Homo sapiens: one gene and its partners. The protein of the gene in region 1 interacts with the protein of each later gene in a biochemical or structural test. Each region holds a gene or a part of one and is shown in the gene's direction. Other genes may lie near its edges.

Region 1 (3,916 bases):
AAGTGAAAACTTGCATATTGTTTATCAAGAGTTGAATGTATTGAGGTATTAAATGCTTTGAGGGAATATGAAGTGGACAGAGACCTATTTAATTAGAGATCGGGCATAAATTGATATAAATACCAATATGTGAGTTAAGTAGCAATAAAGAATTTCATTACGTTAGTAAGTGCATCATTATACCTTTGGGTTTTTTCCCCCTTGTGATTAGAACAGAAATGTGTTTGATAGCAATAGAAATCCATATTTACTTGTTACCATGTGATACTGAATGTTAATATTCAGTGCCTGAAGGGTGTTTTCAAGTGTTTCTTAAGGTGTGATGAACTAATCAGGTTACTCACTTGGGTTGCTGGTTGAAAATGAAGATTCATGGTCCCACTGCAAACCTACCGAATTAGACTTTCAGGAGGCAAAACATCTGCAGTTTTGTTTGTTTTTGTTCTATTGAGACAGAGTCTTGCTCTGTTACCCAGGCTGGAGTGCAGTGGCGCGATCTTGGCTGACTGCAACCTCCGCTTCCTGGATTCAAGCAATCCCCCTGCCTCAGCCTCCTGAGTAGCTGGGACTACAGGCGCACGCCACCATGCCCGGCTAAGTTTTGTGTTTTTGTAGAGATGGGGTTTCGCCATATTGGCCAGGCTGGTCTGGAACTCCTAATCTCAGGTGATCTGCCCACCTTGGCCTCGCAAAGTGCTGGGATTACAGGTGTGTGCCCAGCCCCCTCTGCAGTTTTAACAGCATTTCTGGTTGATTTATGTGGAATTTTAAGAATTGTATTCTGAATCATAACTATTTTCTCCCCCAAATTCCTTATGTGCTTGAAAGAGTTTTTGTGTGTTTGTGTTAAAAGCCACATATCATAAAATTTGCCATCTTAACCTTTTTTTCATCTTAACCATTTTTAAGTGTAAAGTACAGTAGTGTTAACTGTATAGATGTGGTTCTATGACAGATATCTAGGACTTTTCACCTTACAACTTTTATTGAAGATAACTTTATATACCTTATAAACAGACTATACCCATTGAATGGCAACTTTCTTTCCCGCCCCCCCCGCCCCAGCCTATTTTGAGAGTTTTTCTGATGTTGTATGCTAAATGAATTGTAATAGTTGTGGGATTCCAGCCATAAAGTGGTTTGGTTCATTTTGATGTCCTGATTCATTTGCTTATCAGAATTTGCCAAACAAATGGATTCCAGTTAAGTTATTGAGTGGCATTTTAAAAATTACTTTTTAAAAACTCAGATAGATATACAATTCTTAGATTTTTGTTTTGGATAGAAGGAGCTAACTCTGTGTTCTGGTTTCTGATTAATAAATGATGGAGGAATTTTTTGTGAAATAAATGGTGGCAGAATGATATTTCTCAAATTTTCCTGTCAAAGTAATGACATGGAAGAACATTTAGAGGAGCCTGTTGCTGAACCAGAGCCTGATCCTGAACCAGAACCAGAACAAGAACCTGTATCTGAAATCCAAGAGGAAAAGCCTGAGCCAGTATTAGAAGAAACTGCCCCTGAGGATGCTCAGAAGAGTTCTTCTCCAGCACCTGCAGACATAGCTCAGACAGTACAGGAAGACTTGAGGGTATGAAACGTGTCTTCATTTTTATTCTATTCCTAGTTATTTTTTTTAAAAAAAGTTTCTGTTCTTTTGTATTGCTGTTTGGTTGACTTGTAGATACATTTTCATATTGGTGGTTCATTTCAGGGAAATTTCTTAGATATTGAGCCATATGTTTGATAAGAGAGAGGTAAGATGTGTATTAGTTTATTTCATCAAAAGAAACCACTCCCTTCCCCGAGGTAACTTGAATGCCTGTTAGACCAGAAATTTTAGGTGCCACTGTAGCACCCTATCAGTGATTCCTTTTCTATTTAATATTTAATCTTTTACACTATAAATTATTACATACTTGTTACTACAAGTGCATAACATCTTTTCAAGAAAAATAACATGGCAGAATATACTTTTTCTATGAAATTTTATTGAAGATAACTTTATAGTGGAAGTAGAAATGAACTGCTGAAGTAAAACTTCTTTTCTAGTTGGCATACCTGATTTCAGAAGTTTTCAGTTTGTCCTTCTGAGTCTCGTCAGGGTGATTGTTAACTGAACTATCGTTGAAACCTTTGCATTTGGTGCTCTGGAAAGGAATATAATTTTTAGTGCTGTGTTTATAGGCTCAGGGTTATGTCATTTGTTTGTTCAATAATTCAAATTCCTGCTGTGTGTTAGGCATTGTTCAAAGTGTAGGTTTTATATTGGCAAAACAGATAGGGGTTCTTGTTCTCTGGCAGCTAATAGGTGAGTAGGAAAGAGCAATGTTGAAATGACTTTAGCTTGCAAGTGGAAAAAATTAGCTGGGCATGGTGGTGCCTATGTGTGGTCCCACCTGCTTGGGAGGCTGAGGTAGGAGGATGGCTTAGCCTGGGAAGTCAAGGCTGCAGTGAGCTATGATTATGCCACTGCATTCCAGCCTGGGTAATAGAGTAAGACCTTGTCACAAGAACAAAACCATAAGAAGCAAGTGGAAAAGTAGGTTGGCTGGACCAGCTGACCACTTAGTTGGTTATTATAGTAACCCTAGTGAGAGAGAATGATGGCTTGAATTAGAGTTGTGGCAGTGGAAATGGAAAAGAAATAATTAGGTAGAATAACAGGTTCTGGCGATTTTTAAATGTGCGAGAAAGGTGTTTATGATGATTCTACAATTGATGTAATTGAGTCGATGTTTGTACAATGGATTGGATGGAATCACAGTAGGAAGAGCTGAGCTGATTTTGGAGGAGAGGGAATTTTGTTTGATTCACAGATTTGAATGAAAGTAGCTTTTGTTGGGCCAGGCGTTGTGGCTTACGCATTTAATCCCAGCACTTTGGGAGGCTGAGGCCAGGAGGATTGCTTGAGTTTAGGAGTTCAAGACCAGCCTGGTCAATATAGTGAGACTTCATCTCTACTAAAAAGAAAAAATAGCTGGACATGGTGGCACATGCCTGTAGTTTCAGCTGCTTGGGAAACAGGTGGGAGGATCACTTGAGCACAGGAGATGTAGGCTGCAATGAGCTGTGTGCATGCCACTGCATTCCAGCCTGGGCAACAGAGCAAGATTCTGTCTCAAAAAAAAAAGTGAGTAGTTTCTTGAACCTAAGCCTCTCGGATTTGCTTGGTACTTGATCATCAGTCCCAAGGAATTTCAGTACTAAATTTTGAATAGCTGAAAGAGAAGAATCTTAATATATATATATAAACTCCATCCTGCCTATGAGAATGTGTTACCGTTTGTTCTGTACAGGAAATCAAGAGTTAGTAGCTTTTATATTGTTTTGATACCTGGTATAATTATGTAATGTTGGTATTGCTCCCTTAGACATTTTCTTGGGCATCTGTGACCAGTAAGAATCTTCCACCCAGTGGAGCTGTTCCAGTTACTGGGATACCACCTCATGTTGTTAAAGTACCAGCTTCACAGGTAAGGTCCTAATAAAACTTGTACATTAGGCAAATTTACTTCTATTGTGGTAATTTGATTCAACAGAGGTTTAGAGAATGTGAAAACTGGTCAGGTGCAGTGTGGCTCATGCCTGTAATCCCAGCACTTTAGGAGGCTGAAGCCAGCTGATCACTGGAGCCTAGGAGTTTGAAACCAGTCTGGGCAACATAGTGAGACCCTGTCTCTACAAAAAATAAGAAATTAGCTGGGCCTTGTGGCATGCATCTGTAGTCCTAGCTACTTAGGAAGCTGAGGTGGGAGGATTGCTTGAGTCCCGGAGGTTGAGGCTGCAGTGAGTCATGATTGTGCCACTGCACTGCATCATGGGCGACATACTGAGACTCTGGCTCAAAAAAAAAAAACCAACCCAAATCAATGTAGAAACAGAACTGACATATAGGACGGAAGAGAAGGGTATA
Region 2 (7,691 bases), on another chromosome or scaffold:
CAGACATTCCTGAACCCGGCGCTGCCTCCTGGCTACAGTTACACCAGCCTGCCATACTATACAGGGGTCCCGGGCCTCCCCAGCACCTTCCAGTATGGGCCTGCTGTGTTCCCTGTGAGTACCTGGCTTTGGTCACTCCTTGTGGTGAAGGATCCTAGCCCTGGACACTATCCTAGCTGCTTTTAAGGGTCAATGACTTTAATAATGGATGAGGAGGAACAGTTTCCACCTCTGGCCTGTTTTTGGCCTGATGCAGGGTGGTGGGGGAATGGGGCTGGAATTGGTGGAATTAGGATAGGGATTGCCTAGTCTTAGAATTTGCCAAAGGGAGAATATGATACCATACAGCTTTGCTTCACTCAGATTCATTCATTCCCTGCTGCCATTGTCCCTTTTTCTTCCTCCAAACTACCATTTCTTGACTTCATTAGTAGATTCTAGAACAGTTAGTAAGGAGCTAATTTCACTAAGCAAACTGTAGTCAACTTGCATCAGGATAGGTAGCCATCTGAATGGCCAGTACCTGGAGCAGGACAAGTGGGACAGATGGTATTCTGCTGCCAAGTCACTGCAAATCTGGCCTTTTTGCTCTTTAGGTGGCTCCTACCTCTTCCAAGCAGCATGGTGTGAATGTCAGTGTGAATGCATCGGCCACCCCTTTCCAACAGCCGAGTGGATATGGGTCTCATGGATACAACACTGGTAAGCTGACCTTGTCTCTGGCTCGGTGTTATCTGTGGGGTGTTATTGGATAAATTTCAGGGAGGAAGACTTGGTGCTTGAGAAAATGGGATTGGTGAGGGTGTGCCGCTGCCCCAGGTATGATTGTTAATGCTTGGCTGACTTGGGTATCTGTGGGAGCAGCACCAACAGAGGAGCTTGATACTAGGACATGTGTCCACTATTTGTGACGGGAATGCCCAAGAGTATGTGTTGGTTTTTAGAATATGTTGGTTGGCCAAAAGTGTGGGTGGAAGTAGGGCAAGGAGCCCCAAGATTTTGCTGAAATGTCAGTGGAGGCAAGTGTTAATAGTATGTATGGCACTGATAGTACAAAAGGGGGGTGTATTCACTGAGTAGAAGGATTAAATGGGTTCATAGCTAGCAGCCTACGATAGGTTTGGCTTAAATCACTTTGTAGCACTACTTTTCTTATGTGTCCTTTTTTATTCCCTAGCTAGAAGACCTAAACTGTGGAGAAAAAGGAGTAGGCGTGACCATACTTAATAGAGTGGGAATTGGACTGGGAGAGTTGGGCCTTTAGGTTCCTTCATTTGTATGGCTGGTCTCTTTGCAAGTCTTTTTGCATATGTGATGGCAGGGAGGGAATTGTAGGAATCCTCTGGATGGGTACTTACCTAAAAGATACTCAGCCTCTCCCTTGCTTCCATACCTGACATCTGTGCTCTACTTTTGGAGGACAGGGAGTGAGAAGGAATCTTTGAATAATATAATTGTACCTTTTCAGCGACTTGTAGATGAATAGGGGAGGAGTAGGTTTCTCTGATTGCTTAGGGTTGGGGATGGGGGTTGTCCTTCAAAGCTGTCAGCTCAGTTACAGTTTCATGGTGATTTGGATAGAGCAGCATGTGTTTTTCACCCTTATGTGGGCTCTGGGTGGGTCAGTTGCCCACAGTTTTCAATAATTGGGAAGAGCACAGAAGGCAGTAAGGGCTAGGAACTGATAGCCAAGTGGAGCTTTGAACTGTGCTGCATGAGTTAGAGTGGGTCATGAGTTAAATTAAACAAATCCTGAGAAGCCCCATTGAGATTTAATACATAGACTCCTTGTGGCCACCCCTGTCATTGAGCAAGGTTCACCCTAAATCTTGGTGGGGAGGATTATAAGCCTTTTGACTTGGAGTGGTGGCCCCTTTCTGAGGACATTAGGTTGAAGTCTTAGTTGGACCAGGTTCACGAATTTTAAGAGGTAGGTGATGGATAATATAAGAGAATTGGCATACCTGATTCTAGAAATCCCACCTTCTTGCCTCCCTTCAGAATTCAGAAACGTATTATATCAGCCCTTGAGAACCCCCAGTTCCCAACCCCACAAAGGGCTTTTGTCATTCCATTCATTTATTTTTATGTATTTGATTCCTTTTAGGAAGAAAATATCCACCCCCTTACAAGCATTTCTGGACGGCTGAGAGCTAATTTGGCCCAAGGCTGGGGGCTGTGTTTTGTGTGTGTGTATAAATTTGCACTGAAGTCTTGTTTCAGAAACCAGACCACTGAGGAGAGCCTGCTGAGCTGAGGCCATGGCCTGCGTGGCTTGGGGAAATGAGTTGGTGGATACCTTCTGGGCTTTTGAACTTGCCCCTCCCCCATTTCCCTCTCCCCCATGTGTCTGACCCTGTCTTACCCATTTCAAGTTCAAGCGGTGCAGCACCTTCGAAGCATCAATGCACACACCTGCTGTTGCTTTTGATTTCTGGAAGGCATGTAGTTTCAACTTGTAACAAAAATATTTGTAGTCTTCAATAAACTGTGGTATTTCTTTAGCTAACTCTGGCGTTCTTTCCGTGCATGTCTTTGTGGACACTAGGAACCAATGCTGTGCTGTGGATGAAGGGTGGAGGGTGGCCTTTTTAATCAAACCCCAGCATAGCCAAAGAACTATTAATTTTTCAGTATGGTGGTTTTATGAAGGTGGGGGGAGGGGAAACAGCCTCAGTTTCCCACCTGTTGATTAGTTGGTAAAGGAAACTATTTGTAGAAATACCTGATTCTCCATGCTTATGTTGCTTCATTTTTCCATTTAGATCTTTCCTTTGCCTCTTACATAAGCAGTGGGGGAAAGGACAAAAAAGTTTGGAGTGTCATGTCATGGTGAAAGGCAAAAGAGAGAGTTTTCAGAGCTGTTAGAGAAGTATCTTTCAAGGCTTAATTCCCACATCTATCTGGTTCCTAAAGGCCAAGTGGCTAAGATCTGATAAAGTCATTAGTGATAAGCTAGTTGATGACTCAGGCTCTGTGGCGACTGTGCTATCCTGGAACATTGTTCTTAGTCCCTTGATGGCTTTTCAGAGATCGTGGATTACCAGTTTTGCATTTGTGGGTATAAGCTAAGGATGTGCAGGAGCGGTTTGGTCAGATATCTCCTTGACTATGGAAATTCTAATTCCCTCCCAGTCCAGCTAGCATACAACATTAGCCCTTTGTTTATAAAGTTAACGTGGACAGTGAGATCACCACCCTGGGTGAATTAGAAACCAAAGTATTCAGCTTTCCTTGTATTTGTTCCCAGCCCTTTGGAGTAATTTTGCTCTGTGGAGTGTGACCACCTTTCCCAGGGGCTGCCATGGTGGGAGAGATAGATTCATGTGTCTCTGCCCTGCTGCCCACGTGATTCTGGTATTGTCACTGTTTGGGGATAAGTAGGGGGTGTTGATGTTGGAAGGAAAGCAAGAGAACTCTGTAGTCTGAAGATCTTCCTAATAACTGGTGAGGGGTAGTGAAATCAGTACCCATTATTTTCTAGGTCTCTAATACTGTAATTGAGATTATTATGGCTACTACAGAGTATTATGGTTCCTGCATTCTCAGTCCCTTCAACCTCATATCAAAGATAAGGCCTCTGGACTAGAAGCTGTTTTTAGCCTAAACTCTGGAAAGAATGAGATCAGGTAGGGGCACACTGGAGCTGAATTCCTCCCTACCACTCGGCTTGAGAATCCAGTTAGTCATTTCTTCCATCCAATATAGGCAGCCTAGCCTCACTGCAGAAGGTGACCAACTATGCTATTTTTTATTTTTTTATTTTTTTTTTGCCTTTGCAGTAAAGATAAATTCTCTCTTTTGGTTTGACTTAAAAATGTTCTACTTATATCCTGTTTATTCCACCTTTACTCTCCACCCTTCCACATGAACTTACTAGCTTAAGCCTTTTCCATAACTGAACTTCCTATTCTTAAAAGTTATGCCTGTTACTCAGTGATTTGCCAGATGGGCACCTCGGGTTTGAAAAGGGAATGGAAAAAATACCCCATTAGCCCTTTAAGATACTCCTGTATCGTTCCCTTCTTTTACTTCAGTGTCTTTAGACAGTTGATGCTTCGGAGATGAGGAAGTATTTTCTCTTGCTTGGTTTTCTGTAGTTCCGTTATTTTTCCTAGTTAGTGTTTGCCCCTCCCAGGAACTATCTGGACTTAGGATGTTGGGAAGGTTTTCCAGATTAAGATACCACTTCAAAAGTGACTGTTCAAGGTGGGCTTAACTTTGGAAGGCTGCCTTTGTCTGAGGCATTGGGAGGATTTAGGTTCTAGAGTTTGAATTGTGGGTGAATGGAGGATTCCTTATTTGTGATTTGGCCACTCTAGTACACTGCTTCTAAAACTCTTTTCCATCAGTGTTCCTGATAGCAGAGGAGAAGGAAATGTGTACCTCTGATGGGAAGGATCCAAGGGCATAGACAGGCAAAGTTTTTCTGAAGCTTTGTTTTATTTTTATAAAAACTAATATATCTTTTTAAAATCATGCTTTATATTCCTAGTTAAATTACTTACTTTTCTTCACATCTTTGTTTCAAAATGGAAAGTATAAAAGATGTTAGGTTATTTATTTCATGGCTTTTCCTATCTTCTTGACCCGATGCCTTATACCCCAGGTGATGGAATATAGTATGAGTATTTATTTGTTTGAGGAGTACAAATTAGAATGACATGTTGTACTACTCTGGTTTCTTTAAAGTTGTAGTGGTTAGTAGGGAGTTTTTTTCAACAGGAAATATGAGAGTTGGGGTATGAGAGCTTTTATCTTACGGAGAAGCTGAAGTTGTATACTGAAAATGACGTGGTTTTTGTGTTCCACCTAGGCTATAGGAGATGGCCTACTCCTGTCTACCTATCCCTCCCCACCCCGCTACACTTAGGCTTAAATTGTGTACATGGAAATTGATCTTGATACTAGACCTTTACATCTTAAGTTTGAAGATTTAGCCTAGATGCTCCAAGACTAAAGAAGCTGGACTAATTGAGCTGAGGCTCTGAGAATGAGAGTGCCCTTGGGGATTAAAGTGGACTGCTCCTCTAGTACTTATGCAGTGGAGGCATGGATTTTGAGCCCAGAAATGTCACTTCAGGAAGAGAGAGGGCCAGACTGCCCCAGTCTCCAGGAATAAAACTGAGTGGCATTTGGGTGGATTGATTTGAAATGGACATTAAAATTAAAAGTTTATTATATTCCTGCTAGACTTTGGCACAGAAGTGTTTTGAAAACAGTGTATGCTAGTGAGGTTTGGTCATATCCCCTTGCCCACCAAAAAACAACTTACCTCACTCTCTCTCACGTATACTCAACACGTACCTGGGAAGGGCCAAAGAACCCTTAGGGAGCTTTTGTTTCATGAACTCTTACCTCTCAGGACTAACTTGAAGCTGGAAAACCGACCAAAATTCCCTTGCATTGGTATAGCTAGAAAGGCTACAGATATCACCTCATCTCAGGAATAAGGGCCAGGTAGCTAGCTGAGCTAATCCTCCTGTCTGTTTCCTCCTCCCCCAGGTGTTTCAGTCACCTCCAGTAACACGGGCGTGCCAGATATCTCGGGTTCTGTGTACTCCAAAACCCAGGTAGGTGCCTGGCTCTGGATAAAAGTGGAAAAGAGATAGACATAGAGGAGGTGGAGTTGCAATGGTAGAAATAACAGTGGACAAGAAGAACCCTAGGAGAGGTGGCAGGAAACCCATCCTACTTTTTCTAAATGAAAGGTCTTCTCTAGACTTCACTTCCTCTAAGAAGTTAAAATTTAGCCCTCTGAGAAAAAAAACGAGAAACGTAATAGGAAGGTAAAGCGTGGCAAATTGTTTATCGTGTCATGTAATTTACTGTGCAACTCTCCTGGCCCCTTTTCCTACCTACTCCCAACCTTTTTCATAACTTTTCAAGAGAATAAGTATGAGAGTGACAGGAAACTAGTTCATTCCATTCTTTGAGTAAATCTATAACAGTGGGAGTGGGAAAGGAGACGACCTAGTAACTAATGAAGCATTTGAGTGATCCACAGGTTTGTTATGTTGCTTTTATCCCCCATCACCATAAATACTTAAAGTTTGCTATAAAGCACTGGGGGTCTGGGGGGGCACTTCATGCACAAGACCTTCAGCACTTCAAATATCTCAGTATGTGTTTATTTCTTTTGAAATATCCAACGAGTTTTTTTTTTTTTTTTTTTTTTGAGATGGAGTCTTGCCTTGTCACCCAGGCTAGAGTGCAGTGGTGTGATCTCGGCTCACTGCAAACTCTGCCTCCTGGGTTTAAGCGGTTCTCCTGCCTCAGCCTCCTGAGTAGCTGGGATTACAGGTGCCCACCACCGCGCCTGCTAATTTTTGTATTTTTTAGTAGAGACGGGGTTTCACCATCTTGGCTAGGCTGGTCTCGAACTCCTGACATCATGATCTGCCCACCTTGGCCTCCCAAAGTGCTAGATTACAGGCGTGAGCCACTGCACCCAGCGGAGTTACTATTTTTGTAAGGAATATTGGAAGGGGTAGGGACACTATTGGTTTGCCTTTTTTTTTTTTTTTGGAGACAGTCTCAAGAAGTCACCCAGGCTGGAGTGCAGTGGTGGAATCTCAGCCTTCTGAGTAGCTGGGGCTATAGGTGTACACCACCAGGCCTGCCTAATTTTTGTATTTTTGTTTTTTGTTTGTTTTGTATTTTGTATTTTTGTTTTTTGGTAGATACAGGGTTTTGCCATGTTGCCCAGGCTCGTCTCGAACTCCTGGGCTCAAGCAATCCACCCGCCTTAGCCTCCCAAAAGTGCTGGGATTACAGATGTGAGCCATCATGCCCAGCCTGGAGTTCTAAGTTCGGATTTCATGATGTTCACATATGACATTCAGTTTTACAAAGTGCTTCCACATTCCATCCTCTTATTTGGTCTTTTTTTTTTTTTTTTTTTTTTTTTTGAGACGGAGTTTCATTCTTGTTGCCCAGGCTGGAGTGTAATGGTGCGATCTGGGCTCACCATAACCTCCGCCTCTCGGGTTCAAGCGATTCTCCTGCCTCAGCCTCCCAAGTAGCTGGGATTACAGGCATGTGCCACCATGCCCGGGTAATTTTGTGTTTTTAGTAGAGACGGGGTTTCTTCATGTTTGTCAGGCTGGTCTCAAACTCCTGACCTCAGGTGATCCGCCTGCATTGGCCTCCCAAAATGCTGGGATTACAGGCATGGGCCACTGCGCCCAGCCTTTTTTTTTCTTTTTTTTCTTGAGATGGAGTCTCCCTCTGTCTCCCAGGCTGGAGTGCAGTGGCACAGTCTTGACTCACTGCAACCTCCACCTCCCAGGTTCAAGTGATTCTCCTGCCTCAGACTCCCAAGTAGCTGGATTACAGGCGCCCGCCACCATGCCCGGCTAATTTTTGTATTTTTAGTAGAGACGGGGTTTCACCATATTGGCCAGACTGGTCTTAAACTCCTGACCTTGTGTGATCCACCCATCTTGGCCTCCCAAAGTGCTGGGATTACAGATGTGAGCCACCATGCCCAGCCTATTTGGTCTTTACAACAGGTTTGTAGCATCCCTGTTTTATATCTGAGGAAACTGAGGCTAAGAGATTGAGTAGTATGCCCAGGTTCACACAGTTCTTAAATAAGAGCAGAGCTGAGACTGAGACCTGAATATGTGACTTCAAGTGTACTGTGCCTTCTGTGACACCATGCTGCTTTCTGAGGGTCAGGGAGCTTG
Region 3 (7,762 bases), on another chromosome or scaffold:
TGGCCATCATTAGGTAGGACTCTACAGCATTTGACTTTTTACATTGTTTTAAAGTCCTTCCTTCAAGTGTAAAATGTATTGATATGGGTAATATATTCATGTGATTCAAGAATCCAAAGGTAAAAAAGAGAATATAATTAAAAATCTGTCTCCCATCCTTGTCACCCAGACACCTGCCTCCTCTCATGGGAGGTAGTCATTGGAACCACTGACTCATGTGTCCTCCCACAAAGTCTTATTCAAGAAATAAATACCATATTTCATTGATTCTAAGGTGTACATTTTTTCATATTTGTAACATCTTGAAATCCAGATGCATCTTACAAACAGTGACATCTCAGAATTCCATTGGCAGTATTTTCTGCTTCGTTTTTGGCATGTAAAATCATGGTACATCTTATCATCATTGGCATCCCAGAACTGATGAAATGCAAAAGCTTTCTCCTCCCTCCCCTGTTTTTAACCACAAATGGTAGTAACATGACATACTCCCTTCGTACCATCTTTTCACTTACACATCTTGGAAACCTTTCTCTAACAGTATGTATCTTGGAGCCCGGTAGAACACCATTGTGTAAATGCACTCTATGTTAATCAGTCCCCGACTAATGGGCATTTTGGTTCTCCCCAGTCATTTGCTGTTTTAAAAAAATGCTACAGCAAATATGCTAGTACCTTTATAAAAATAAAATTTTATTTTACACTAACATAAAATAAAAATGTTACTTCACCCTTTTTAAAACACAGGTTGTGGGCTAAGTTCCTGCAGCAGAATGACTGGGTATGAGAATGAATGCGTTGATCATTTTATTTTTATTTTTATTTATTTATTTATTTTGAGACGGAGTCTCGCTCTGTCACCAGGCTGGAGTGCAGTGATGCAATCTTGGCTCACTGCAACCTCTGCCTCCCAGGTTCAAGTGATTCTCCTGCCTCAGCCTCCCAAGTAGCTGGGACTACAGTCGCCCGCCACCACACCCAGCTAATTTTTTGTATTTTTAGTAGAGACGGGGTTTCACCGTGTTGGCCAGGATGGTCTTGATCTCTTGACCTCGTGGTCCACCCACCTCGGCCTCCCAAAGTGCTGGGATTACAGGCCTGAGCCACCGCACCCGGCCTTTATCATTTTAGTGAACATTTTCAAATCTCCTTTGGAGACAGAGGGGTAGATTGGCAGGGGGTGAGAGTTTGAGGGCCTCCATTACTCAGTTCCCGGCAGATTTTTAGGCATCAGCATTAAAGGAATTGGTGGTCCAGGATTAGAGAGCAGGGGACAGTCTGTCTCTGCAGAGGAGGACCCCTCACATACTCCAAGCTGTTATTTCCTTGTCTTGCCCAGGCCTCCTGGACATCACGCCCAGCACAGTCTTATGGATGGCTATTGCATGTTCAACCACGTGGCTGTGGCAGCCCGCTATGCTCAACAGAAACACCGCATCCGGAGGTCAGCAACAGAGGGCAGATGTGATGGGGGTGGCATGGGGTGGGGTGTCCTGGTCTGGGCTCTTCCCCCAGATTCACCTTGATCTCCTTGCACAGAGTCCCCTCTCTCTGCTGCTCCTAGGGTCCTTATCGTAGATTGGGATGTGCACCACGGTCAAGGAACACAGTTCACCTTCGACCAGGACCCCAGGTATACCCCGACTCCCACCTAGGTGCTAGACTCCCAGCCACCTCCCACCCTTACAGGCCCAGCCAGAAGGGGTCCAGAAGGAGGAAAAGGCATTCACATTCATGGGGCCTATCCTGGGATCAGGATCTGTGCTACTTTTGTGTGTCTGCCATCTCTCCTAATTTCACTCTGAGGCAGGGACTGTTGGGTTCCCTATTTTACAGATAGGGGGACTGAGGCTTATACGTTAAGAGGTCACACAGAGAAGAACTGGGAGAGACGGGATTTGACCCACAAATATTTGAAGATCTTATTCACTGATTAACCGTTGGGTTAGAGTGAACCTCAAATTACTGCTTTATTTTTTCTGATTAGGATAATGCTTCAAAGTGTTTGTTTATCCTTTCAGTAGATAGTAAAAAACAAATATAAATAAATAAATAACAAACTATTTGTTTAAAGAAATTAAATAATACAGAAGTGTCTGAAGCAGTGAGTCTCCTCTAATTTCCATTACCTCAAAAATAAGTGTTGACAGTTTAGGTTATATCCTTACAGATTTTCTCTATAGATGTCTGAATTTTTATTATTATTGTTATAATTATTAATAACACACTGCCTAATGGAATAATTCTCCACATGTTCTTCGACAACTTGCTTTATTCATTTAACAGCATATCTGGGACATTTCTCCATGTTAGTACCTCTTAAAGTATCTCGTTCTTTGTAGTATTCAATTTTATGACTGTACCTCTGGTTATTTAACCCCAGGACTTTTAAGATGCCTGCCAGTTTTTGCTATTACAGGCACTTCTACTGTGAATAGTCTAGTAAATATGTAATTCTGCACTTCTCTGAGTCTATCTGTAGGATGAATTTCTAACAGTGGGTTGCTTGGGCCAGAGAGTCAGCATACTTTAAAGTCTGGTATACACTGCCAGACTTCCCTCCAGGAGGGGACCAGCTTACCCTTCCTGCAGAAAGTGATTGAGCAAGTCCTTGTCAGTAGGAGACATTACTAAGTACATGTCGAGTATCCCTTATATGAAGTGCTTGGAACCAGAAGTATTTCACATTTCAGATTTTTTCAGATTTTGAAATATTTATATTATACTTAGTGGTTGAGCATCCTTAATCTGAAAACCCAAAATCCGAAATACCCCAATGAGCATTTCCTTTGAGCATCATGTTGGCCTTCAAAAAGTTTAGGATTTTAGGGCCGGGTGAAGTAGCTCACTCCTGTAATCCCAGTACTTTGGGAGGCCGAGGCGGATCACCTGAGGTCAGGAGTTCAAGATCAGCTTGGCCAACATGGTGAAACCCCGTCTCTACAAAAATACAGAAAAATTAGCCAGGCGTGGTGGCACACACCTGTATTTCCAGCTACTCAGGAGGCTGAGGCAGGAGAATCACTTGAACCCAGGAGGCAGAGGTTGCAGTGAGCTGAGATCGCACCACTGCACTCCAGCCTGGGTGATAGACTGAGACCCCATCTAAAAAAAAAAAAAAAGTTTAGGATTTTACAGCATTTCAGATTTCAGATTTCTAGATTAGGGATGCTCAACCTGTAGTAGTTTTATCTAGCCTTCTTCCTAGCTGACTACAGAGAATCCACTTATCCAAGATCTGAAGAATCCAATTTAGGTTGGTTGTTCTCTAGACATTGCTTTATTATTTTGCAGCATTCAGTGTTCCTGACAGGTGTCTGCTTTTCATTCCTTTCCAAGTAATCTACTTTCCTCTCTGCAAGGTTATCTTGGTGTTCTTTTTTTTTTTTTTTTAAATTATTAGACAGGGTATCACTCTGTCACCCAGGCTGGAGTATAGTAGCATGATCATAGCCCACTGTAACCTCAAACTCCTGGGCTCAAGCAATCCTCCTGCCTCAGCCTCCCAAGTAGCTAGGACTGCAGGCATGTGCCACCACACCCAGCTAATTTTTTAAATTATTTGTAGAGACAGGGTCTCACTATATTGCCCAGACTGGTCTCGAACTCCTGACCTCAAGTGTCCTCCCACTGCAGCCTCTCAAAGCACTGAGATTACAGGCATGAGCCACTGTACCTAGCCTTGATGTTCTAAACTTTTACCCTGGCCTTTTCACTCTGTTTAATAGTAGGTAGACATTTTACATCTGAAGATTCATGCTTTTCTTAAACTCTTGGAAATTATTTTCTATTAGATCTTTGATAATTTCTTCTTTGTTTTCTCTGTTCTCTTTCTAGGACTTCTGTTAGTCAGATGTTAGACTTCCTGGGTTGATCCTCTATGTCTCTCTCTTTTTTATTATTTATTTATTTATTTATTTATTTATTTTTTTTGAGACAAGGTCTTGCTCTGTTGCCCAGACTGGAGTACAGTGGCACAAATACGACTCACTGCAGCCTCGACCTCCCGGGCTCAAGCAATCCTCATGCCTCAGCCTCCTGAGTAGCTGGGACCACAGGTGCACACCAGCATACCCAGCTAATTTTTTAATCTTTTGTAGAGATGGGGTCTCACCATGTTGCCCAGGCTTCTTATTTTTTATCTTATGTTTTCTGTCTCTTTTTTCTTTTGCTGTGACCTGGGAGATTTTGTCAACTTTATCTTCAAGCCCTTCTGTTGAATTATGTATTTAGATATCCTGTTAAACTCCAAAAGCTCTTTCTTCCTCTCTGTTTCTATGTCCTCTCATACCTGATCTTGTTTTTATAGAGTATGGATTAGAAGTGCCGGCTGGGTGCGGTGGCTCATGCCTGTAATCCCAGCACTTTGGGAGGCCGAGGTGAGTGGATCACTTGAGGCCAGGAGTTCGAGACCAGTCTGGCCAACATGGTGAAACCCCATCTCTACTAAAAATACAAAAATTACCCAGACGTGATGGTGCGCACCTGTAATCCCAGCTACTCAGGAGGCTGAGGCAGGAGAATCGCTTGAACCCAGGAGGCGGAGGTTGCAGTGAGACAAGATCATGCCACTGCACTCCAGCCTGGGCGATAGAGGGAGACCCTGTCTCAAAAAAGGAAGTGCCTTAAGTTTCTTCTGTTGTCTGAGTTATGTCTCTTTATTCTGAGGCTGGTTGAATTATTTTTTTCTTGGTCCTTCTCTTTTATGCTGATGGTTTTCCTCAAATGTCTAGCAATCCTTATTTGGCTATTTATACCCAAGAATGAAGGCCCATTGTAGGGGGCTGTCAGAGGACTACTCTGCTGCAGTGTTTGTAGGTCTGTTTTCCTGAAAGGCATTTCCCCAGAATGGGGACAGGGAATGTCCACTGACAGGTTGCAACTTTAGCGAGTGTGGGCAAGGACCCGGGCATTAGATGGGATCCTGCCAGATGTCAGAACAAAGGAGGCCTCTTCTTTGGGGTAACATCTCTTTTTTCCCTCAGCCTTTCCAAAGTGTATCTGTTGTACTTATCTTTTCCAGTGTAGCTTTGGGCTTTGTTGGTCATCTCTACTGTTTTATTATGGTGGGTTTTTAATACTTCATTAATTTTTCTGGTTTTATCTTTATTAATGTTTTCCTCCGACGTTCTTTATTTTGTTCATTTCTGGCTTCTGGAATTTAATGCTTCAACATTTATCAACTCATTGGCCGATCTCATTTCATCTATACCTGTACCCACTGCCCTCTTCCTGTTTTCCTTCAAAGCTAATCCCAGATACCATATAATTTCTCCTGTAAATATTTCAGAATGCATCTCTAAAACATAAGTACACTTTTTTAGAAAAGCATTACCTTAGTATCAATACCTGAAAATTAACAATAATTATTTTTTTAATCTGCCAAGGGTCTGTCATTCAAAGAATTCTTTAATATCATTAATCATTCTTTTTGTTTGAATAAATGCATAGGAGGCTATAGCTGTGTGTTCTTTCATGGGTACACTATTGATTACACACACAGATGTGAAACACTGTGAATATATTCAGTGCATTCTTCCTTATTAACAAACGTGTGTAAACAAACAAACAAAAAGAACATGTCCATGCCCTTGGATCTCCCAGCTCCCCATCTCTCAGTCTCTGAACTCCAGCAGCAGGGAGACAAACTGGATAATCCTTAAAATACTGTTGTGAAGACAAGGAAAGCAGATGATCTAAAACTAAGTAGTTAAAAGAAACAAGTAACTTTGTTGTATTGGTGATTCAGTGAGTTGGCTCTTCAGAAGGGATTTTGTGTGCATTGACCTGGATCTGTACTGGATTTCTCCAGAAAGGAAACTTCAGCTTATCTTGGGTGCCCCCTTATCCTGCTCAGCATGAGACAGAGCACCCTGGGGCCCCTGGAATCTCAAAGTCTACTTTCTAGAAATTCATTGAAGTCTCTTATTCTCTGACATCCTTTCCACTCTCTCTTTCTGGGTTGCTGTTTGTTTACAATTTCTTTACTGTATTTTGAATGGGGTAGTAGGAGGTTGAGGAAGTAAACCTGTGCTATCAATCCACCATTTAACTTGAAGGTGGTTGAACTTATTTTGAATTTCCCTTCTGTTTTCTTTTTAAACTTAGCTTGAGTGCTAGTTCTGCTGTTTATTGACTTTGATGGCTCTCTTTTAGAGTCAGCTTTCTTCAGATCTTTTCTTTCTTCCTGTCTTCCCCAATGATATTTTTTTCTTTTCCTTTCTTTTTTTTTGAGACAGAGTCATGCTCTGTCGCCCAGGCTGGAGTGCAGTGGCCCGATCTCGGCTCACTGCAACCTCCGCCTCCTGGGTTCAAGCAATTCTCCTACCTCCACCTCCCAAGTAGCTAGGATTACAGGCACGCGCCACCACGCCCAGCAAATTTTTTGTATTTTTAGTAGAGACAGGGTTTCGCCATGTTGGCCATGCTGGTCTCGAACTTCTGGCCTCTAGTGATCCGCCCACCTTGGCCTCCCAAAGTGCTGGGATTACAGGTGTGAACCACTGCGCCCAGCCCTCTGGTGATAATTTTTATGTCCTACTGTGTTTCTCTTCCTCTAATGATTAACTTACTAAAAGTTTAGAACCAAGATTTATCTATCAATGTCAAAAATAAAACAATCATCCTCCACCTACTCAACACCAGAGCTTTTGCTTGTTTTTATTCCCCAATTCCAAGCTCTTTTCCCTCAATTTTAAGAATCTTTCTATATCACTTGCATTAAATTTCACAACTACATTATCAACCCATTAAAATGTGACTCTTAAGTTTGTCTAGATTCAATGCATACCACTATTTCTTGCATTTCCCTAAAAAAGCTGCCTTAGATCCTCTCTGGAACAAAGCAGGGGGTAAATGACCAGATAGAAGGATGGATGGATGATAGATTATTCATTTTGCTTTCCCCAGTCAGAATTAAGCCCTCCCATGGCCCCTTGCTGGGCTTTCTGTCAAAACACGTGCATCGCATCTTTTCAGTATCTGTTTTGCGTGTCGGTCATACTCACCCCTCTGAGTGCTCATTCTCTCGCCTATAAAATAGAAGAAGTAGTAGAGGTGGCCTGTAAGGCATTGGGGAGGAGGAACTGCCCTTTCACTGGCCTCATGACAGCCCCAGCCAGCACCCCCGCTCTAGTTCCACCCACAGAAGCAAGTCTCACCCCTACCCCCCAGGTCTCTCCACTTCCTGCTAGAGAATCACCCAGCTCCCCAGCCTGGCTTGAGGCTCTTTTCAGCCTTAGCTGGCTCCCCGCAGCTAAGAGCCCCATGCTCCATTTGGGCCTCCAGTGTCACAGGGTTTGACCTGCTGTTACTACTACCTTTGTCATAGGGGCAGGTAGTGGGCGGACATGATCTAGAGTACCCCACAGAGTCAGGAGCCCCCATGATCTGAGATAGACCCTAGAGCTGAGCCTGAAATTGGGTGGGCACTGAGGGGGCAGCGATGTTTGCTGAGGGAGAGGTTCTGGTGAGAGACTAAATGAATGAGCGAGTGAGGTAATGGATAAATAAAGATAAGAATGAAAAAATGGTAAGATGATTAAATTGGTGACTGAATGTAAGGGTAAATTAATGGAAGAATGGATTCATGGATTAAATAATTAATGGGGAAATTAATGAATGAGAGAATGAACGAGTGGTTGAATGGGGAAATGAGTGGTAGAGGAAACTGGCAACTGTTGGGTTGGGGGTGTCTATGGGGATTGACTTCTCCAACTCTCTTACCTCTTTTTCTTCTGCCCCCAGTGTCCTCTATTTCTCC
Region 4 (8,495 bases), on another chromosome or scaffold:
TTTTCAGCTGGGCATGGTGGCTCACACCTGTAATCCCAGCACTTTGGGAGGCCGAGGCAGGTGGATCACGAGGTCAGGAGTTCAAGACCAGCCTGGCCAAGATGGCGAAACTCCGTCTCTACTTAAAAATACAAAAATTAGCCAGGCGTGATGGCAGCCTCCTGTAATCCCAGCTACTCGGGAGGCTGAGGCAAGAGAATCACTTGAACCTGGGAGGCGGAGGTTGCAGTGAGCCGAGATGGTGCCACTGCACTCCAGCCTGGGTGACAGAGCGAGACTCCATCTCAAAAAAAAAAAAACCCCCCCACACACAAAACCTGTTTTCTTGAATCATGGTTGTTTTGTTACTGATAGGTTCAATAAGTAAATATATTTATTGTCTGTTGTATTCTTTATTAGGCATTATAAACACACCGCCACTTTTTAATTTTTATTTCATTAATGTTTCCAATTTTTTTTTTTTTTTTTTTTTTTAAGACAGAGGCTCGCTCTGTCATCCAGGCTGGAGTGGAGTGGTGCAGTCTTACCCCACTGCAACCTCCACCTCCTGGGCTCAGCCTTGTAAATAGCTGGGACTACAGGCATGCACCACCATGCCTGGCTAATTTTTGTATTTTTTTTGGTAAAGACAGAGTTTTGCCATGTTTCTCAGTCTGGTCAAGCACTCCTCCCGCCTCGGCCTCCCAAAGTGTTGGGATTACAGGCATGAGCCACCATGCCTGGCCTATTTCTAATATTTTGGTCCACATTGGTGTTAGACCAACTGTCCACATTAAGTTTTCTTGGAAAAGATGAAGTAAATATTGCAACTGGCCTATGTATTTTTTTCCCTATTTAGTATATTTCTTTGACTAGTTCAACTGATAGAATTCCAAGACTTAAAAAAGTCAGGCTCTAAGGCTGGGTCCAGAGGCTCATGCCTGTAATTCCAGCACTGTGGGAGGCCAAGGCTAGTGGATCACTTGAGCCCAGGAGTTCAAGACCAGCTTGAGCAACATAGTGAGACCTTGTCTCTCTATAAAAATACAAAAATTAACTGGGGATTGTGGCGCATGTCTGTAGTCCCAGCTATGAGGAAGAGTGAGGTGGGAGGATTGCTTGAGCCCAGGAGGTTGAGGCTGCAGTGAGCTGTGAGTTTGACACTGTGCTTCATTCTGGGTGACAGAGCAAGAACCATGTTCAAAAATAAAAATAAAAAGTCAGAGTCCGGGTGCTGCGGCTCATGCCTGTAATCCCAGCACTTTGGGAAGCCGAGGCGAGAGGATCACTTGAGGTCAGGAGTTCGAGACCAGCCTGACTAACACAGTGAAACCCCGTCTCTACTAAAAATACAAAAATTAGCCGGGCATGGTGGCGGTGGCCTGTAATCCCAGCTACATGGGAGGTTGAGGCAGGAGAATCACTTGAACCCGGGAGGTGGAGGTTGTAATGAGCCAAGATTGCACAACTGCACTGCATCCTGGGCGACAGAGTGATACTTCATCTCAAAAAAAAAAAAAGAAAAAAAAAGTTAGGCTTCCTTTTCTGTTTTTTTTTTTTTTTCTTTCTTCTCTTTTTTTTTTTTTTTTTAAGAGATGGAGGCTTGCTCTATTGCCCATGCTGGAGTGCAGTGGTGCAATCTCGGCTCACTGCCACCTTTGCCTCCTGGGTTCTAGCAATTCTCCTGCCTCAGCCTCCCGAGTAGCTGGGACTACAGGCGCACACCGCCACGCCCCGCTAATTGTTCTTTTGTATTTTAGTAGAGACGGGGTTTCACCATGTTGGCCAGCCTGGTCTCGAACTCCTGAGCTCAGGCAATCCGCCCGCCTCGGCCTCCCAAAGTGCTAGGATTATAGGCGTGAACCACCGTGGCTGGCCACTTACTTTTCTTTCTATTGAATTTGAATGAATAATTTGGAAGACAGTATCTTTACTTCATACCAGGAATGCTGCCAGTGAAATTTCTTGTTTGGCAGTTCATTATCTACCTATATATTTAATTTTGCTATTGTTTATAGAGTTCTTAAGATATGATTAAATGCTAGCTGGTTAAGAAATCATTTAGAAATGAAACAGAATTGGTTGTTACTCCAAGTTAATAAGTTGCTTGTCAACATAAATCCTACCTGGTACCCAGTTTTCTTAGGAACCTTGCTTCCATGTTTATCCTTTTCTGCTTAGTATTCTAAGTACTCCTTTTTTACCTTACAATTTAGTCTTAAAACACAACACAGTCAAGTCTTTCTTTTGTAACCTGTGAGATACCTTCTAGCCTTTGTGCTGTTTTTCTTCTCTTTTTGCTGCCTGCCTTCCTGACTGAGAGTGGATTTCCTCACTAAGGCTCTGCCCTCTGATTTTTCACTCTCTTTTCTTTTTTGGTTTTACTAGTGAAATTTTGTCTTTAATGTCTCTTTCTTTTATGTCTTTACCGATCACTCATAGATTTTTTTTTCCATATGTATCCAGTTCCAACCTTTCACCTAATGTGAACCCCCAACTCTCAGTTGCTCAGCCAGCCCTTCAAGACTAGGAGTTCAAAACCAAACTTGCATCTTCCTTCCCAAACCAGCTTTCCTCTTGCAGTTTTCTGCAGCAGGATCCTTCTGCTGTTTAACTTTTGCCTCCTCCCTTGTTTCCTAGCACCCAATAGTTGGAAGATAGTCTGTCTTCAAAATTTTAAACTACATTTATGTCCAAACCAGTGGCTTTTCCTTTTAAAAAAATTTAAAGATAATATGTGCAAATCATTTTTTTAAAATTCAAACAGTATTTAAGAGTTTCAGTGAAACATGCATTTTCCTTCTACCCTGGTACTTAGTTTTACTCCCCAAGGGCAATCACTTTTTACTGGTTTTTAGAAATATATCCTTCCTGAGATACTTATGAATATCCAAAAGTGTGTGTGTTGTGTATATCACCTTTTATATATCCTGTCTCTTTACGTGCATGCATTTTACCGTATAAACTGTTTTCTACCCTGCTTTTTCTATTTGACCTATTTTGGAAATGTCATTTTATTTAGAACTTCCTCATTTATTTTAACAGCTGCATAATTAGCAGTAAAACTTATGTAAGCAGTCCCTTGTGAAGGGCTGTGTCTTTTTGCGATTATATCCGGTGCTATAGTGTACATCCTTGTGTGTGCATCTTGGTGTGCCTGTGCTACGTATTTCTGTAGGATAAATCTGTAAAAGTGGAATCACTAGGTCAGAGGGTATGATCCATTTTCTTTACTTATTTATTTTATTTATTTATTCATTTATTTTTGAGACAGAGTCTTGCTCTGTCGCCCAGGCTGGAGTGCAGTGGCATGATCTTGGCTTACTGCAAGCTCCGCCTCCCGGGTTCACACCATTCTCCTGCCTCAGCCTCCGGAGTAGCTGGGACTACAGGCGCCCGCCACCCACGCCTGGCTAATTTTTTTGTATTTTTAGTAGAGACGGGGTTTCACCATGTTAGCCAGGATGGTCTCGATCTCCTGACCTTGTGATCCACCCATCTCAGCCTCCCAAAGTGCTGGGATTACAGGTGTGAGCCACCGCGCCCGGCCCCATTTTATTATCTTTATTTGCTTGGATCCTTCTTAGCTTCTTCAATGTTAAAGATATTGACAGTTTTCCTCTTACTGAAATTTATAAATCCATTGACTCCCTTGATATTATTGCCCTGGCCTGACTGATTCTTCTCTCTCCTTTCTCTTCTCACCCCATGTTGAGGTCCCCAAGGTCACACCCAGTTTTGATGACTCACCAGCATAGAGTTGTACTTGTGCCTATGATTTATTGCGGTGAAAGGATATAGAGCAAAATTGCAAACGGAAAGGCACCTGGGGTGAATTCCAGGGGAAATCCAGTGCAAGTTCCAAGGTCGCCTCCCAGTGGAGTCACATAGGATGTGCTTACATCCTCCAGCAAGGAGTTGTGACAACACTTGTGAAATGTGGACTGCCAGGGAAGCTCATCAGAGCCTCAGTGCCTAGGGTTTTTACTGGAGGCTGGTCACATAAGCACCCTCACACATATCAAAAAATTCTGGTCCCCCAGAAGGAAAGCAGGTGTTTAGCATAACCATATTATTTGCATGAACAGTTCAGGTACAGGAAATCCCCGTTACCAGTTAGGTTGGTGGGTGCCCTTCCCAAATCCCAAGTTCCCAGACACCAGCCAGGGGCCTGCCTCGTAAGGAGGCCTTTCCAGGACAGCAGTCAGGCCTGCCAATGTTAATTCTTTTCTGCATACCTCCTAATTTTAGAAACCACCGAGCCTTTGCTGCCTGACCTGTCCTGCTTTTCGATTTCTTTATCTACTTTGATATCTTTACAAATGATCTTTACCCTGACTTTTAAATGTGTGCTCTGGCCATTCACCTAGCGTGTGGTTCTGAGTCTCCAAGTCTTAGCAGATTTGCTCTCAGATGCTCTGCCAACGCTTCACACCAAGTATTACAAACTAAACTCGTCATCTTCCTCCTGAAACCTGTCTCCCAGGCCAGGCGCGGTGGCTCACACCTGTAATCCCAGTACTTTGGGAGGCCGAGGTGGGTGGATCACCTGAGGTCAGGAGTTCGAGACCAGCCTGGCCAACTTGGTAAAACCCCATCTCTACGAAAAATACAAAAAAATTAGCCAGGCGTGGTGGCAGGCACCTGTAATCCCAGCTATTCAGGAGGCTGAGGCAGGAGAATCGCTTGAACCCGGGAGGCGGAGATTGCAGTAAGCCGAGATCACGCCATTGCACTCCAGCCTGGGCAACAAAAGTGAAACTCCATCTCAAGAAAAACAAAAAACAAAAAACAAAAAACCTGTTTTCTCCCCAGCTTTGTCATGTATTTAGTGGCCTTATGTAGACAGTTTCCTTTGAAACATCTCTTGGACTTCTCTGCTCTTCCAGGGCCATTGCCACTGACCTGGAATGTGTCCTTATCGTTTCACGCCAGGCTTATGGCAGCAGTCAGTCACCCAGATGACCTCCTGACCTCTGGCTTATTTCACCCCCACTGGACTGTTGTTCCTAAACACTTCTTTCGTATGTCACTCTAAAATCTGACCCTGGCTGTACCTTTCTTTAACTACTCCCTGACTGCGTGCTGAGAGAAGATGGGTCTTGTCTTTTCCTGCCTCTCTGCTTTTGTAAACTGCCATTTCTACCTGAAGTGGCAACTGAAATCATATCTTCTTCATAAACTGTCTTTGGCTACCTCAGTTAGAATTCCTTATCCCATTTTCCTGAAGCATTTCTTTGACTCTTCTTTACTGCTCCCCCACCCTTTTTTTTTTCTTTGAGACTGAATTTTGCTTGTTGCCCAGGCTGGAGTGCAATGGCCCGATCTCGGCTCATTGCAACCTCCGCCTCCTGGGTTCAAGTGATTCTCCTGCCTCAGCCTCCTGAGTAGCTGGGATTACAGTCATGTGCCACCATGCCCGGCTAATTTTGTATTTTTAGTAGAGATGGGGTTTCTCCACGTTGGTCAGGCTGGTCTTCAACTCCCAACCTCAAGTGATCTGCCCACCTTCGCCTCCCAAAATGCTGGGATTACAGGTGTTAGCCACTGCGCCTGACCCCCATTTTTTTTTTTTTTAAAGATGTTGAATTGGTCAGGGTTTGTAGTTACAAGCAACAGAAGCCAACTCTTTAAGCAGAAAAGGAATTTGCTAAATGATAGTGCAGAGTTCTCAGAATCTCTAGCAGGATGAAGAACCAGGCTTGGAGAATAGGTAGCCACAGATACACAAGCATACTGTAGGACGGTTCCCATGAAGAGGCATCTGTTGTCACCACTGGACACAGATGGTACTGTGTCTCTGCTACTCTACCAATGCCACTGCTGTCTCTGACCCCAGATGTAGCTCCCTCTGACCCTGGATGCAGCTCCCTCTGACCCTCGATATAGCTGCCCCTGACCCCGGATGTAGCTGCCTTTGACCCCAGATGTAGCTTTCTCCAAACCCAGATATAGCGGCTGCCCCCTTGCCAGAGTGAATACTGCGTCATTGTGGCTTCTTCTTGTCACTGGTTCTTACTTAAAAGCTGAGCTGGAAGTTCTAATGGGCAGTTTTGTCACCTGCTCTTACCTTGTTGCAGTCTAGATGAGGTCTAATGTTCATAAGCTAGGGGATTTTCAGATATGGAAAGGGATACCAATTTTCAGCAGCCAAATAGAGTATCACATTTTCACTCCATGTTTCCTGGGTGTCTGTTATGTTTCCTGGGTGTCTGACTCTTAGGCTTCTTTCAAGCTGCAGTCTGCCTAATAGAGAGCCTTGCATTTAATCATCAAAAAGGCAAAGCAATATGAATCAGCAAGGGTGTTTTGGGAAATAACAGCAAACCTGACTGTGGCGTAAGCTTGTGGTATTGTCTCCAGTGTGATCAGATCTGTATTTTAATTTTTTAAATGTAAATTAATAATGATCTGTGAATCACCAAAGTAGCTTGGAGTAGCCTAGAAAACAATGTATGTCCTCCGTTTTCACAGAAGCCACATAGTCGTGGGTTAAATGAGTCAGCGGCAGGGCACTGTGTCTCATAGTTAAAAAAAAAAAAAAGTATTACTGAAGTAATGCAGGATCTTTTCTGAAGTAGAAGGCATGATGAACCCAGAAAACTAAAGCAGCAAGTGGCCACCGTTCTTAGCATAGTTGTTTCTCAAACTGGAACAACCTATAAACAGTTGTGAACAAGGTATTAGAAGTGATGGGGGCCGGGTGCGGTAGCTTCTCCCAAAGCTCATTACCTCCCAAAGCAACCCCAGTACTTTGGGAGGATCACTTTGAGCCCAGGAGTTCCAGACCAGCCCGGCCAACATGGCAAAACCCCATCTCTCTAAAAGTACAAAAAATTAGCTGGGCATGGTGGCACATGCCTGTAGTCCCAGCTACTTGGATGGCTGAGGCAGGAGAATCGCTTGAACCCGGGAGGCAGAGGTTGCAGTGAGCTGAGATCACGCCACTGCACTCTAGCCTGGGGGACAGAGTGAGACTCTGTCTCAAAAAAAAAAAAAAAAAAAAAAAAGTGATGGGAATAGATTGTTTTGTCTCAAAAAGCTCTTTCCAACACTAAAATGAAACATATAATTAAAAATATTTTTCTGGCTATAGAAATATCGATGCTTATTATAGACATCTGCAAAGTATGAAAATATATGAAGAAAAAAATTAAAATCCCATCATCCCCCATGAAAACTATTGTTATCATTTTTGTCTGATTTCTTTAGTGTTTCTCTTTTTCTTTTTTTAATTTTTAATTTTTTTGAGTATGTAGTAGGTATATCTATTTATGGGGTATATGGCATATTTTGATACAGGATACAGTGTGTATTAGCAAGGTTTTCTTTTTAATGTTTATATTTATTTAGTTGAGATCATACTATATATGGCTCTATAGATTACTTTCTCACTTATATTACTAACTTGTGTTATTAAATATTCTGCATAAAGATAATTTTAAGATGAAATTTGATGTTATAAAAACTTCTCATTTTATTAAGAGATTAACGCTATGAAACCTGCTGCTATATATTCTTGGAACCAGCTGTGACCCAAAAGATCAATGTAGGGATGTAGGTCCTTCCCCATTCTCTACACACAAAATCAGATACTCTGATGTGCAGCTGTAGCCCCAGTCTACACTGTCTGTTGTATTTTTTGTTTTCTGGTGTCATGTGCCTCCCACCCTGCTCCTAGCAATTGCCATGACAACAAATAGATAATTGGCTTCCGTAATTTCTCATCTTATTGCCTAAGGCAACAGAGAGCTTGTGGGCTCAGCTTGCGGTTCAGCAGCTGCTTTGTTGCCTCTCCTCTGTATGTGTGAGGCCTGCCAGAGCCCACTTTCCAGACAGGTGAGAGTTCATTCATTCACCATGCAGTTACCGATCGTCTCTTGACCTGTGTCCTGGGGAGGTAAAGGTGATGAGCCAGTTCTGCCCCATGCAGCTCACAGTCTAGGCAAAGCTACATGCAAACAAACAGAATCCAAAGTGCTATCATGAACCCTCTGAGAGGGGCTGACTCAGCAGCCCAGGGAGCTTGAAGAAGGCTCCACAGAGGAGGCTGTGCCTCAAGGCGATTTCGGTTTAGGAGCCACCAATTTATAACCACTTTTCTGTGGCCCGTCTTATTTTATTTCTTATTTCTTGACAATCAGAAGTACCTTGGGTAGGTTTTACCATGCACATCGTAATTTGAGTGAGCTTAGTGTGAGGCTTAACGGTGTGTGGGCTGTACATCCTGGTCAGATGCTCTAGATGGAGGCAGATGGTTGTGATGCAGGAGAGGCAGCCACATAGCACAGGTCCCCAGCCAGTGGACTGGGAAGACAGTGTAGTCATCTCTGGGGAAGGGGAATGACAAGATCTGGCAGTGTGGCAGGTCCCAGAAAAAAAGGGCTGGGTTCTGGGCAGTGAGGGTGCAGGTTGAGACCTGAATACTGGGTGGAGCCAGCTGTCAGAGTCCACGCCTGCAGACTGGACTGGTCCACGGCAGGTGGATGCCATGTCTTGAAGACCCACAGGCACCC

What was found.
Region 2: the proteins of G3BP1 (region 1) and UBAP2L form a complex in vitro, tested with the Homo sapiens proteins (one study listed by BioGRID).
Region 3: the proteins of G3BP1 (region 1) and HDAC6 form a complex in vitro, tested with the Homo sapiens proteins (one study listed by BioGRID).
Region 4: the proteins of G3BP1 (region 1) and LGALS8 form a complex in vitro, tested with the Homo sapiens proteins (one study listed by BioGRID).

Annotation. Positions count from the first base shown.
Region 1 is NC_000005.10:151,795,838-151,799,753, forward strand, and holds part of G3BP1 (ras GTPase-activating protein-binding protein 1), read left to right. Parts: intron 1-1,389; coding exon 1,390-1,591; intron 1,592-3,374; coding exon 3,375-3,476; intron 3,477-3,916. UniProt on the Homo sapiens protein: Protein involved in various processes, such as stress granule formation and innate immunity. Plays an essential role in stress granule formation.
Region 2 is NC_000001.11:154,260,996-154,268,686, forward strand, and holds part of UBAP2L (ubiquitin-associated protein 2-like), read left to right. Parts: coding exon 1-114; intron 115-596; coding exon 597-702; intron 703-2,107; coding exon of another isoform or gene 2,108-2,157; exon of another isoform or gene 2,158-2,510; intron 2,511-5,505; coding exon 5,506-5,573; intron 5,574-7,691. UniProt on the Homo sapiens protein: Recruits the ubiquitination machinery to RNA polymerase II for polyubiquitination, removal and degradation, when the transcription-coupled nucleotide excision repair (TC-NER) machinery fails to resolve DNA damage.
Region 3 is NC_000023.11:48,806,694-48,814,455, forward strand, and holds part of HDAC6 (protein deacetylase HDAC6), read left to right. Parts: coding exon 1-13; exon of another isoform or gene 14-267; intron 268-1,339; coding exon 1,340-1,444; intron 1,445-1,564; coding exon 1,565-1,633; intron 1,634-7,746; coding exon 7,747-7,762.
Region 4 is NC_000001.11:236,528,096-236,536,590, forward strand, and holds part of LGALS8 (galectin-8), read left to right. Parts: intron 1-8,495.